Linked DNA regions of Homo sapiens. The protein of the gene in region 1 interacts with the protein of each later gene in a biochemical or structural test. Each region holds a gene or a part of one and is shown in the gene's direction. Other genes may lie near its edges.

What was found.
Region 2: the proteins of ALG2 (region 1) and SHISA5 form a complex in vitro, tested with the Homo sapiens proteins (one study listed by BioGRID).

Annotation. Positions count from the first base shown.
Region 1 is NC_000009.12:99,215,828-99,219,134, reverse strand, and holds the end of ALG2 (alpha-1,3/1,6-mannosyltransferase ALG2), read left to right. Parts: intron 1-298; coding exon 299-1,201; 3' UTR 1,202-2,710; downstream 2,711-3,307. UniProt on the Homo sapiens protein: Mannosyltransferase that operates in the biosynthetic pathway of dolichol-linked oligosaccharides, the glycan precursors employed in protein asparagine (N)-glycosylation.
Region 2 is NC_000003.12:48,501,145-48,509,183, reverse strand, and holds the start of SHISA5 (protein shisa-5 isoform a precursor), read left to right. Parts: upstream 1-5,009; 5' UTR 5,010-5,089; coding exon 5,090-5,165; exon of another isoform or gene 5,166-5,463; intron 5,464-5,990; exon of another isoform or gene 5,991-6,089; intron 6,090-7,890; coding exon 7,891-8,039. UniProt on the Homo sapiens protein: Can induce apoptosis in a caspase-dependent manner and plays a role in p53/TP53-dependent apoptosis.

The DNA of each region.
Region 1 (3,307 bases):
AAATTAATTTCACCCTTAAAAACATTTTTAATATTACTAGATTTCTATTAGACAGCACTATACAAGAGGAAATCACTGGACTTGAAGCTTTAAATGTTTAGCACACATCTAGCAAACGTCTGTAGCCTTCTGTACACCAGGCATATGGTACTGGGTGAGAGTCTTGGGGAATAAAACAGAATCAGACATTGCCCATGAGGAGCCCACAGACTAGCCAGACGGGGTGGGTGTCTGTGTTTTTGGTTTGGTTGAAGTTGAGTTGACCACTTTATCCGCTGTTGATTTTTGCTTTGGCTAGGTGTCTGCCTGTATCCCAGTGTTCAGGCTGGCTAGACGGCGGAAGAAGATCCTATTTTACTGTCACTTCCCAGATCTGCTTCTCACCAAGAGAGATTCTTTTCTTAAACGACTATACAGGGCCCCAATTGACTGGATAGAGGAATACACCACAGGCATGGCAGACTGCATCTTAGTCAACAGCCAGTTCACAGCTGCTGTTTTTAAGGAAACATTCAAGTCCCTGTCTCACATAGACCCTGATGTCCTCTATCCATCTCTAAATGTCACCAGCTTTGACTCAGTTGTTCCTGAAAAGCTGGATGACCTAGTCCCCAAGGGGAAAAAATTCCTGCTGCTCTCCATCAACAGATACGAAAGGAAGAAAAATCTGACTTTGGCACTGGAAGCCCTAGTACAGCTGCGTGGAAGATTGACATCCCAAGATTGGGAGAGGGTTCATCTGATCGTGGCAGGTGGTTATGACGAGAGAGTCCTGGAGAATGTGGAACATTATCAGGAATTGAAGAAAATGGTCCAACAGTCCGACCTTGGCCAGTATGTGACCTTCTTGAGGTCTTTCTCAGACAAACAGAAAATCTCCCTCCTCCACAGCTGCACGTGTGTGCTTTACACACCAAGCAATGAGCACTTTGGCATTGTCCCTCTGGAAGCCATGTACATGCAGTGCCCAGTCATTGCTGTTAATTCGGGTGGACCCTTGGAGTCCATTGACCACAGTGTCACAGGGTTTCTGTGTGAGCCTGACCCGGTGCACTTCTCAGAAGCAATAGAAAAGTTCATCCGTGAACCTTCCTTAAAAGCCACCATGGGCCTGGCTGGAAGAGCCAGAGTGAAGGAAAAATTTTCCCCTGAAGCATTTACAGAACAGCTCTACCGATATGTTACCAAACTGCTGGTATAATCAGATTGTTTTTAAGATCTCCATTAATGTCATTTTTATGGATTGTAGACCCAGTTTTGAAACCAAAAAAGAAACCTAGAATCTAATGCAGAAGAGATCTTTTAAAAAATAAACTTGAGTCTTGAATGTGAGCCACTTTCCTATATACCACACCTCCCTGTCCACTTTTCAGAAAAACCATGTCTTTTATGCTATAATCATTCCAAATTTTGCCAGTGTTAAGTTACAAATGTGGTGTCATTCCATGTTCAGCAGAGTATTTTAATTATATTTTCTCGGGATTATTGCTCTTCTGTCTATAAATTTTGAATGATACTGTGCCTTAATTGGTTTTCATAGTTTAAGTGTGTATCATTATCAAAGTTGATTAATTTGGCTTCATAGTATAATGAGAGCAGGGCTATTGTAGTTCCCAGATTCAATCCACCGAAGTGTTCACTGTCATCTGTTAGGGAATTTTTGTTTGTCCTGTCTTTGCCTGGATCCATAGCGAGAGTGCTCTGTATTTTTTTTAAGATAATTTGTATTTTTGCACACTGAGATATAATAAAAGGTGTTTATCATAAAAAAGAAACAGTATTAGATTTTGGTCTCCATAATCTATTTTGGTATTGTTACGAACATGGATATGACAACCAAACTGGAAATCAGAACACTAGGGTAAAGTGGATATTGAAATGAAGCAAGAATATTGTCACACATGTGTTGTGCATCTTGTTTAGGGTATATTTCTTAATGTCATCTAGGTCATTAGTTTTGTTAATATTTGTGTTGTCTTGACCAAGCTCCTACTAAGTATAGGACACAAATGTTTTTTATCTTCCAAGGCCTGGCTCAAATGCCACTGCTGCAAAGCTTTCTTTGACCCTCTGGCCACCTCCCAAGCCAGAAGTTATCTTCCCCCTCCATGTACTCTAGCCTTTTCATGACACTGATATTTTCGTGACACTGACTTATAGTTCACTGTTTACCTGTTGGTCTAACAGCAAATCATAAACAGTAGTTTTCAACATACTTCTAAGGCTAAATTCATTTCCAGAAGTAGCAAAGCTTACTAGCCAAAGGCTCCACATTTATCAACTCTTAAGAGCTAGACTTGAGAGCCTAACAGCCTATATGATTTTGTGTAAATTGATCTCTATACCTCAGCTTCTTCATCTGCAAAGTGAGATAATTGTACTATTCTACTTTCCTCATAGTGCGGTTATAACAGATTATGATAATATTACAAAGTACTTAATACTTGGCATATAGTATATATATTAGCTATTAGTATTTTGCAATTTGGGGATATTGAAAATTAGAAATTGCATGTTAGTTCATGCTGCACTACCATATTGTTCTTTTGGGGCTCTTCAATGGGTGAAATTCCATTTTACAGTTTATCATGTGCATCTGTATCACAGGAGTATTTTGGCAAAATGATTCTGTACCAAAAAGGAGTACTATAAAATGAGGGTGCCAAATATATTGAGTCTTTTATGGGATTAAAAGTTCTGTTGCATTCCATTTTCTTTGGCATTGTGAAAGCTTACCATGTAGTACAGAAGGTATGATTTGGTTCATGTGTTTCTGAGAAATGCAGCCTTTCCAGGAAGCCTGGTGGCTCTTACCATGGAGTTTAGCACAGATAGACTTGGCCACACTGTGACCTACAACATGGTGCTTACCTTACTAAGCAGCACTAAACATTTGCATATTTGACCATTTTTATGCAAATCCTTTCAAATGGACTACATGGGTTCATGGACCCTGATTTTAGCTTCACTTCATTGTCCTAAGCCGGAGTGAGTGACAATAAGATTTCACAGGTCTGGGAGGGATGGAGTCCTGCCTGCCATGAGCTTCCAGCTTCTGACCATTAGTTCCTGGTTCCTGGACCCTAGAATGGAACTTTGCCCTTAAGAAGTGTTCACACCTTCCAAAACTAAGCTGAAGTTAGGGAAAGTAGAAGCATGAAACATTGAAGGTGAATTGTTGGGGCCTTATCCATAGTAATTCTGGTAATTACTTTGTGCAGGGCAGGAAAGGAGATACATACATAGCAGATGCTTAATCCTCAACAATTCACTGAGATGTAGGTATTCTTCCCTTTTAGATGAATGT
Region 2 (8,039 bases), on another chromosome or scaffold:
AGAACTAAAACTAAATATTTAGTTTTTTATCATGCAACACCACCAGCAGTGACTTTACCAGCTCGGTCTCCTCTGCCTGCCACAAGTTGCCAGAGCCCTTTCCTTCCTCAGGCCTGGACTTCCACTGCTTTTAGCTCCAACCAGGCAGATGACAAGTCGGACACCCCCATTTCCCTGGGCATCTGCTACCATTCCTGATGGGGACTAATTTTTTAAAAAAAATTATTTATTTTTTATTTCTCTCTTTCTCTCTGTCTCCCCTTTTTTTATTTTTTTATTTTTTGACAGAGTCTTACTCTGTTACCCAGGCTGGAGTGCAGTGGCACGATCTTGGCTCACTGCAACCTCCACCTCCCAGATTCAGGTGATTCTCATGCCTCAGCCTCCCCAGTAGCTGGGATTACAGGCATGCACCACCACACCCAGCTAATTTTTGTATTTTTAGTAGAGACGGGGTTTCGCCATGTTGGCTAGACTGGTCTGGAACTCCTGACCTCAAGTGATCTGTCCGTTTCAGCCCCCCAAAGTGCTGGGATTACAGGCGTGAGTCACAACGCCCAGCCTAGTTTTCTCTTTTTTTTTTTTTTTTTTTGAAGCAGTCTCGCTCTGTTACCCAGGCTGGAGTGCAGTGGTGCGATCTCGGCTCACTGCAACCTCCGCCTCCTTGGTTCAAGTGATTCTCCCACCTCAGCCTCCTGAGCAGCTGGGATTATAGGTGCACGCCACCACGCCTGGCTAATTTTTTTTGTATGTTTAGTAGAGATGGAGTTTCGCCATGTTGGCCAGGCTAGTCTTGAACTCCTGACCTCAGGTTATCCACCCGCCTCGGCCTCCCAAAGTGCTGGGATTACAGGCTTGAGCCACCTTGTCCAGATGTTTTCTTTTTTTTTTTAGGTTTTTTTTTTTTGAGACAGAGTCTTGCTCTGTTGCCCAGTCTGGAGTGCAGTAGTGCAATCTTAGCTCACTGTAACCTCTGCCTCCTGGGCTCAAGCAATCCTCCCTTGTAGCTGGGAATACAGGCACGCATCACCATGCCCAGCTAATTTTTGTATTTTTTGTAGAGACGGGGTTTTGTCATGTTGCCCAGGCTAGTCTCAAACTCCGCGCTCAAGAGGTATCTGCCTACCTCTGCCTCCCAAAGTGCTGGTATTACAGGCATGAGTCACCACGGTGCCCGGCCCTGGTGAGAACTTCTCTGTCAGTTGGAGGAAACTGACTCTGCCCAACTTAATCAGAAACCCAATTTATGAAAAGCAACTGTGGAGCCCTCAGAGCCAACAAGGCGGCTGGAAAGAAAGGTTCCAAGTCGAAGCAGTATCGTCTCCAGCCCAAACCACAGTGCTACTTTGGCCTGGTGAGCATGCCACTGCTCCTGCCACGAGGGGGAAGCAGGGGCCTTTGTGACTCACACAGCCCTCCCCACAGGTGCAGACTCATGTTTCTGCCAGGACTGCTGCAGCCCTCCATCAAAGCTGGTGGCCAGTACCCCTGACTGACTCCAGGGAGGCTACATCTGATTGGTTGGGGCTGGGCAAAAGCTCTTGCCCTGGGGCAAAGGAATCTGAAAAAGATAATATCTAGCGTGTTCCTCCTCTGATGTGGAGGAAAGGGGACCAGGTGCTGAATGAAGAAGAATGGCAAGGATCCTTGAGCAAGCGTTCCACTGTAGAACTCACCGATCTGGTCCTGCAGTCAGTCCTGGGGCTGGGCTGATGGCCTCATTCTCACCTGGTTACTCTCACCCTGGGCTTTACAAGCATCAGTGGGTGTTGCTTTGCTCCACCAGCCTGATGCAGAGTTCTCACCTACAAACTGTAACCAAGGTCCCAGCAGAACACAGTCATTCTTAACAAACTGGGTATTTGAGGAGAGTTTGATAAAAGTGCTGTTGCACTTTGGGAGGCTGAGGCGGGCAGATTGCTTGAGCCCAGGAGTTCGAGACCAGCCTGGGAAACATGGCAAAAACCCTACTTCTACAAAAAATACAAAAATTAGCTGGGCGTGGTGGTGTGCATCTGTGGTCCCAGTTACTCCAAAGGTTGAGGTGGGAGGATCACCCCAGTTTCCTGGGGAAATTGGGGCCGCAGTGAGCCGTGACTGCACTCCAGCCTGGGTGACAGTGAGACCTTGTCTCAAAAAAAAAAAAAAAAATTGCTGTTTACAGAGCTGTAGGAAGGTTTGGGGAGCCACCTAGCTTTGGTACAGCATCTGGGCCAAGTCCTAGCCTTGGTACAGCATCTGGGCCAAGTTTGGTTTCTGCCTTGGAGGGGTCACTTTCCCCAGGCAACTTGTATTTCCAGGCTTTGCAAGCCTGAGCTGCAGAGACAAAACTCCTCAGACACCGAGTTAAAGAAGGAAGGGGTTTATTTGGCCGGGGGCATCGGCAAGACTCCTGTCTCAAGAGCAGAGTCCCCCGAGTGAGCAATTCCTGTCCCTTTTAAGAGGGTGCTCGTGAGAGGGTCGTGATCGATTGAGCAAGCAGGGGGTACGTGACTGGGGGCTGCATGCACCAGTAATTAGGTCAGAACAAAACAGGATAGGGATTTTCACAGTGCTTTTCTATACAATGTCTGTAATCTATAGATAACATAACTGATTAGGTCAGGGGTCGATCTTTAACTACCAGACCCAGGGTGTGGCGCCGGGCTGTCTGCTTGTGGATTTCATTTCTGCCTTTTAGTTTTTACTTTTTCTTTCTTTGGAGGCAGAAATGGGGCATAAGACAATATGAGGGGTGGTCTCCTCCCTTAGACCCACAGAAAATGCCTGCACACATGGGCACATGCCTGTGAGATGCATGGTTGCGATTTCCAAGCCACTGGGGTGATCCTAGCCTCCACTCACTCCTGCCCATGCACAGCCCTGGGTGGAGCCCAAAACACCCACCAAGCTCAACCATGAGCTGTGGGCAGATAAGAGGGTATGGGAGAGCCAAAGACCAAAAAAGTAGGGAGGAAGAGGCCAGGTGAGAGGCCCCTAAAGGATCTGGGGTTGGGGGCAGCAGAGTAGAGAAGCCAAAGGCAAGCATAGGAGGTGGGAAAGGACAATTCTTTTTTTTTTCATTTTTTTTTTTCGAGATGGAGTCTTGCTCTGTCACCCAGGTTGGAGTGCAATGGCGCGATCTTGGCTCACCACAACCTCTGCCTCCCGAGTTCAAGCGATTCTCCTGCCTCAGCCTCCTGAGTGGCTGGTATTACAGGCATGCACCACCACACCTGGCTAATTTTGTATTTTTAGTAGAGACGGGGCTCTACTGAACATGGAGATGTTGGTCCATGTCTATCCAACATGGAGATGTTGGTCAGGCTGGTCTCAAACTCCCAACCTCAGGTGATCTGCCTGCCTCTGCCTCCCAAAGTGCTGGGATTACAGGTGTGAGCCACTGCACCAGGCCTTGTTTTTCTATTTTTGAGACAGGGTCTTGCTCTGTTGCCCAGACTGGAGTGCAGTGGCACAATCATAACTGCAACCTTCATCTCCTGGGCTCAAATGATCCTCCCACCTCAGCCTCCCAAGTAGCTGAGACCACAGGTGCTTGCTACCATACCCAGCTAATTTTAAAATTTTCTGTAGATATGGGGTCTCCTTATGTTGCCCAGGCTTAGAACAACTCTTAGGAGCTTGGCTGGGGGGCAGGGACTGGAAAACCAAGGAACAAGAAACCAAGCTTGTGGATGGTGCAGAGTGGAATGAGCAACCTTTAGGGAGGCAGAGGGCTGGGCACCCAGGGTGTGGAACACAGGATGGCTCTAGAGCTGGACATGAGGAGCATACACTGGCCATTCTGCAGAAGGGGGACCTAGGCTGCACCCAGCTTTGGAGAGTGGCGCTCAGGAGGCAGAGGTGGGATAACCAGGCTGGGCTGTCAGGGAGGATGTGACTCCAGTCCCTCACTAAGACCCTCCCAGAGGGCATCCTGCCTGGGAACTGTCATATCCCTGCCCCCCACATGTGTATTGAGCACGGTGAGTCTTAAGCCCTTCTTGGCCAGGAGGTGATGGGGGCTTATTGGAGACCCAGGCCTTCCTCTCCCTGTTCTAACACCCTAGCCTGGGAAACTACTGGGAACATCCCAGATTGTCCCCTTGGGTTTCTCTTTGTCCACAGCGATGCCCCCACCTTTAGGTGAGAAATATATGGTGGCACACAGGGTGCACAACCCAGCCTGGGTGCCCCACTAGTGTGACATTTCACGTTTTCTGTCTTGAGTGAAATGTTCTGATTGTGCTAGGTGCAGAGTGGGGGTGGGTCAGGAACTCTGGGCATAAAAGGAAGAATGACTCAACATCCCTGATTCTGCCTGGACCCCTGCCCCGAAGTGAGGGGGCGGAGCCCTGTGTGGGAAGTTGGCCTGGCTGTGTGCCCTGGGAGCTGCCAGTTTCTAGCTCAGTCCTGGCCCACTGCGCCAGCGCTGAGCCTGCCAGGGCTGGGGCTGGGGATCACCTTGGGATGATGGTGTCAGTCCCAGGGGGCAGGAGATCGAGTGTCCTCTGAGCTGGCGACTGGGCCTGTAGAAGGGAACCGGCATTTGTGGAGTGTCTACTGAGTGCCAAGGTCTGCGCTGGGCACTGTCCTCGCACCGCCTCACCTAGTCCTCACGTAGCCCTCGGGCAAGTGAGGATCCGCCGGGACTGCGGCTGGGAGGGATGGCTGTGGCTGTCCCCCAGCCCACACAGTAGGCGCTCAGTGTCAGGGTGCATATTCCCGGGGACGCCCTCCAGGCCTGAGAGCTGGGGGCCGCCGCCGCCCCCCATGCATCCGGTGAGCAGAAGGAAACTCCGTGCGTCGCCCGGCGCCTGTCCGAGTCTGGGAACCGGTACCAAGTTTTCGCGCAGACCCCGGGCGCGAAGCTGGCCCCGAGGCTGGGAAGTCGTCCGCTTCCTTCCTTCCTCCTCCTTCCACCTTCCTCCCTCCTCCCTCCTCCCTCCTCCTCCCTCCTCCTCCTCCTGCTCCCCCGGACAGAGGTTCCGGGAACCAGCCGGGCCGGGGCGGGGCGGGGCGAGGGAGAGGGGCGGCCGCGCGGATCACTGAGGCTGTGGCGGCACTGCGCCCGGCGCTCGCGTCCGTCCGCCCGTCCGCCCGCCCAGCCATGACTGCGCCGGTCCCCGCGCCGCGGATCCTGTTGCCGTTGCTGTTGCTGCTGCTGCTAACGCCGCCTCCGGGTGGTGAGCCGGGGGTGGGGGCGGCCCGTCCTGCCCTGGGACCGGGCAGACACTTCCCCGCGCTGCCTCTCCAACGAGCCGGGCAGCACCAGCCCCACTATGCCCCCCACTGACCCCTGATTGCCCCGAGGCCGTCAGCGAACCCCCACGACTGCGGACCCCTCCTCCACCCCAGCACCCTCCTTGCCTGAACAACCCTGCCTAGACACCAGGCAGCTGCCACCTTTGTCTGTCCTGGAACGGTGGGGAGGGGTCTGCCCTCCCGCCCATGTTCCAGGGGATGGAGTCCCCAGAGGCTAGGGTAGGGTTCCCTGCCTGGCTTTAGTCTGGCGGGTGGCTGCAGGGCGAGCTGGCCCCTCCATCAGAGGCCTTCCCTCTTTGCCTCTGTTTAATGTCTGGGAGCCCCCACCGCTGCCTCCGTTGGCCCTTGTGTTCCTGTAGAGCCCGGCGCTGAGGCTGGCCTCTGGGGTGGAGACACCACTGTGTGTGTTGGTTGCAGATAGGTGATTCACAGAGTCTGGAAGGCTGGCTGGGGGCGGGTCCTTTAAAGGGTTAGGAATTGGAACAATCCCCTGCCCACCCATGGGAAGCCAAAGACCCTTTTGGGGTGGGTGGCTTCGTGGAGGGGAAGGCTGTATTTCCTGGGGGCTGGGATGAATCCAGAGGACCTGGGCTAGAGAAATGAGAAAGGGGAGACTTGTGCCCAGAATCCGCCCACTCCTGGAGTGAGCCTGTAGGAGGGTCGGTCACTGATTCAGTGAGGTCTGGGGGTCAGAGAGCATTTGTGCCATGGACTCAGCCTAAACAGCCTCACCGGTGTGTCTTCAGCCCTAGCTCAGAGGCTCAGATTGGGCTGTGAAGACCTTGCTGCATATGGGTTCACCTGAGCCACCAGGCACGGGCCATGCTGATGATACCAGCTTTCAGGTGGGCAGCTGGCCAAACTGGGCTTGTCAATGGTCCAATCCTCTGCTCCATGGCTTTGCCCAGAGCAGGGTTCTGCCTGGAGCTGCCAAGAAGTGCAGTTCCCCCCAACTCCCCACTAAAGTTCCCTCTTCCCAAGGAGGTCACTTGGTGTCTCTGTCTCTGGGCTTCACTCTACTGACAGCCTCGGGGTGTGTGGTGTCCTGATCAGGCCCGGGCACCAGATGCTGCACATGGCCAGGTGCCTGGCCTGGCTGGGTCTCCAGAGGCCACGTGCTATGGCAGACTGTTTCCAGGCCGATGTAGTTATGCCTCAGGGCTATCATCAGACCTGTCCCCTGCCTACTGCGGACTTGTGGGCCTTGCTGGACTAGGTATTCTCTTTGGAGTCTGCCCTGGCAGAATCCGGTACTGTTCCTTCCTGTTAGTGGGCACAGGTCTCTGCTAATGTAGCCTGAGGATACATGGGAACATTTGACTGTAGCATCTTCCTGGAGGTTTGTAAACCTTGTGGTCATCCAAAAACCTGGGTTATTTTCCACATTTGTTGTCAGCCAGATCCCCTCAGCATGACCTCGTTTATTGAGACTTGTAAGGATGTCAGTAGATCCCAACTCTGTGCTGAGAGTCTTGTGATGGCTCCAGGGCTACAGATGGTGCCACTGCCTTGGAGCCCTGTTGCCCAGGCTGGTCTCAAACTCCTGGAAGGCACAGACATTTCCTGGACACCTGCTGCAGGCCCAGCGCGGGGCTAAGTGCTTTATGAACGCTGGTATGGTGGGTGTGACAATTTCTGACCAGGATCTAGCCTGCCATCATGGTTATGGGGTGGTCTGTGAGAGCCAGGCCCCTGCAGTTGTGGTGCCCAGCAGGGGCTGAGGTTGCTGTGGTTGAGTGAGGGAGAGAGTGAACGAGGATTAAGAACTAGACAGTCTGGCTGGGGTGCGGTGGCTCATGCCTGTAATTTCAGCACTTTGGAGGCCAAGATGGGTGGATCACCTGAGGTCAGGAGTTCAAGACCAGCCTGGCCAACATGGCGAAACTCTGTCTGTACTAAAAAATACAAAAAATTAGCTGGGCCTGGTGGCAGGCACCTGTAATCCCAGCTACTCGGGAAGCTGAGGCAGGAAAATTGCTTGGATCTGGGAGGCAGAGATTGCAGTGAGCTGAGATCGCACCACTGCACTCCAGCCTGGGCAACAGAGTGAGACTCTGTCTCAAAAAAAAAAAAAAAAAAGAAAGAAAGGGACAGTCCAGTGTCTGGTCCCCTGCAGGTGTTGAGCTGTGTGACTTCTCGCCTGGGCAGCTTCTGGAGGAGGCCACCTGGAGTAGGGCCTTGAAGGATGAGTAGAGTTGAAAGGCAGGAGATAGGAACCAGGCAAGAATGTGAGCGGAGTGTGGACAGGTTGGAGAGCTGGAGTGATCTTCAGGACTCTGCAGTTTAGACCCTGCTTGGAAACTCGGGCCTTGATCCTGAAGCAGTGGGAATTAGGGGAGGTTTGAGAGCAGGGTGTGGCCCCATCAGACTCACATTGAGAAAGTTCACCCTCCTATCAGGAGGCCAGTGCACTGGTGAGGGAGAGAGGGAGCCCAGTTAGGGCAGCTCTGTTGTGGCCCGTGGGATAGGGCAAGGCTGAGGGGGAGCAGTGGCCAGGGGTCAGAAGGTGGCCTGTGGCTAGGGTGGCTCAGAGACGGTGCAGCATGTGTGTGTGTGTGTGGTCTGGTGGCTGTGCCAGGGAGGGCGCTGTGTCTGCTGGGGCCTGGCCCGTGGGCACAGGTGAACAGATGTGTTTCTCCTCTCCAGCACGTGGTGAGGTGTGTATGGCTTCCCGTGGACTCAGCCTCTTCCCCGAGTCCTGTCCAGATTTCTGCTGTGGTACCTGTGATGACCAATACTGCTGCTCTGACGTGCTGAAGAAATTTGTGTGGAGCGAGGAAAGGTGTGCTGTGCCT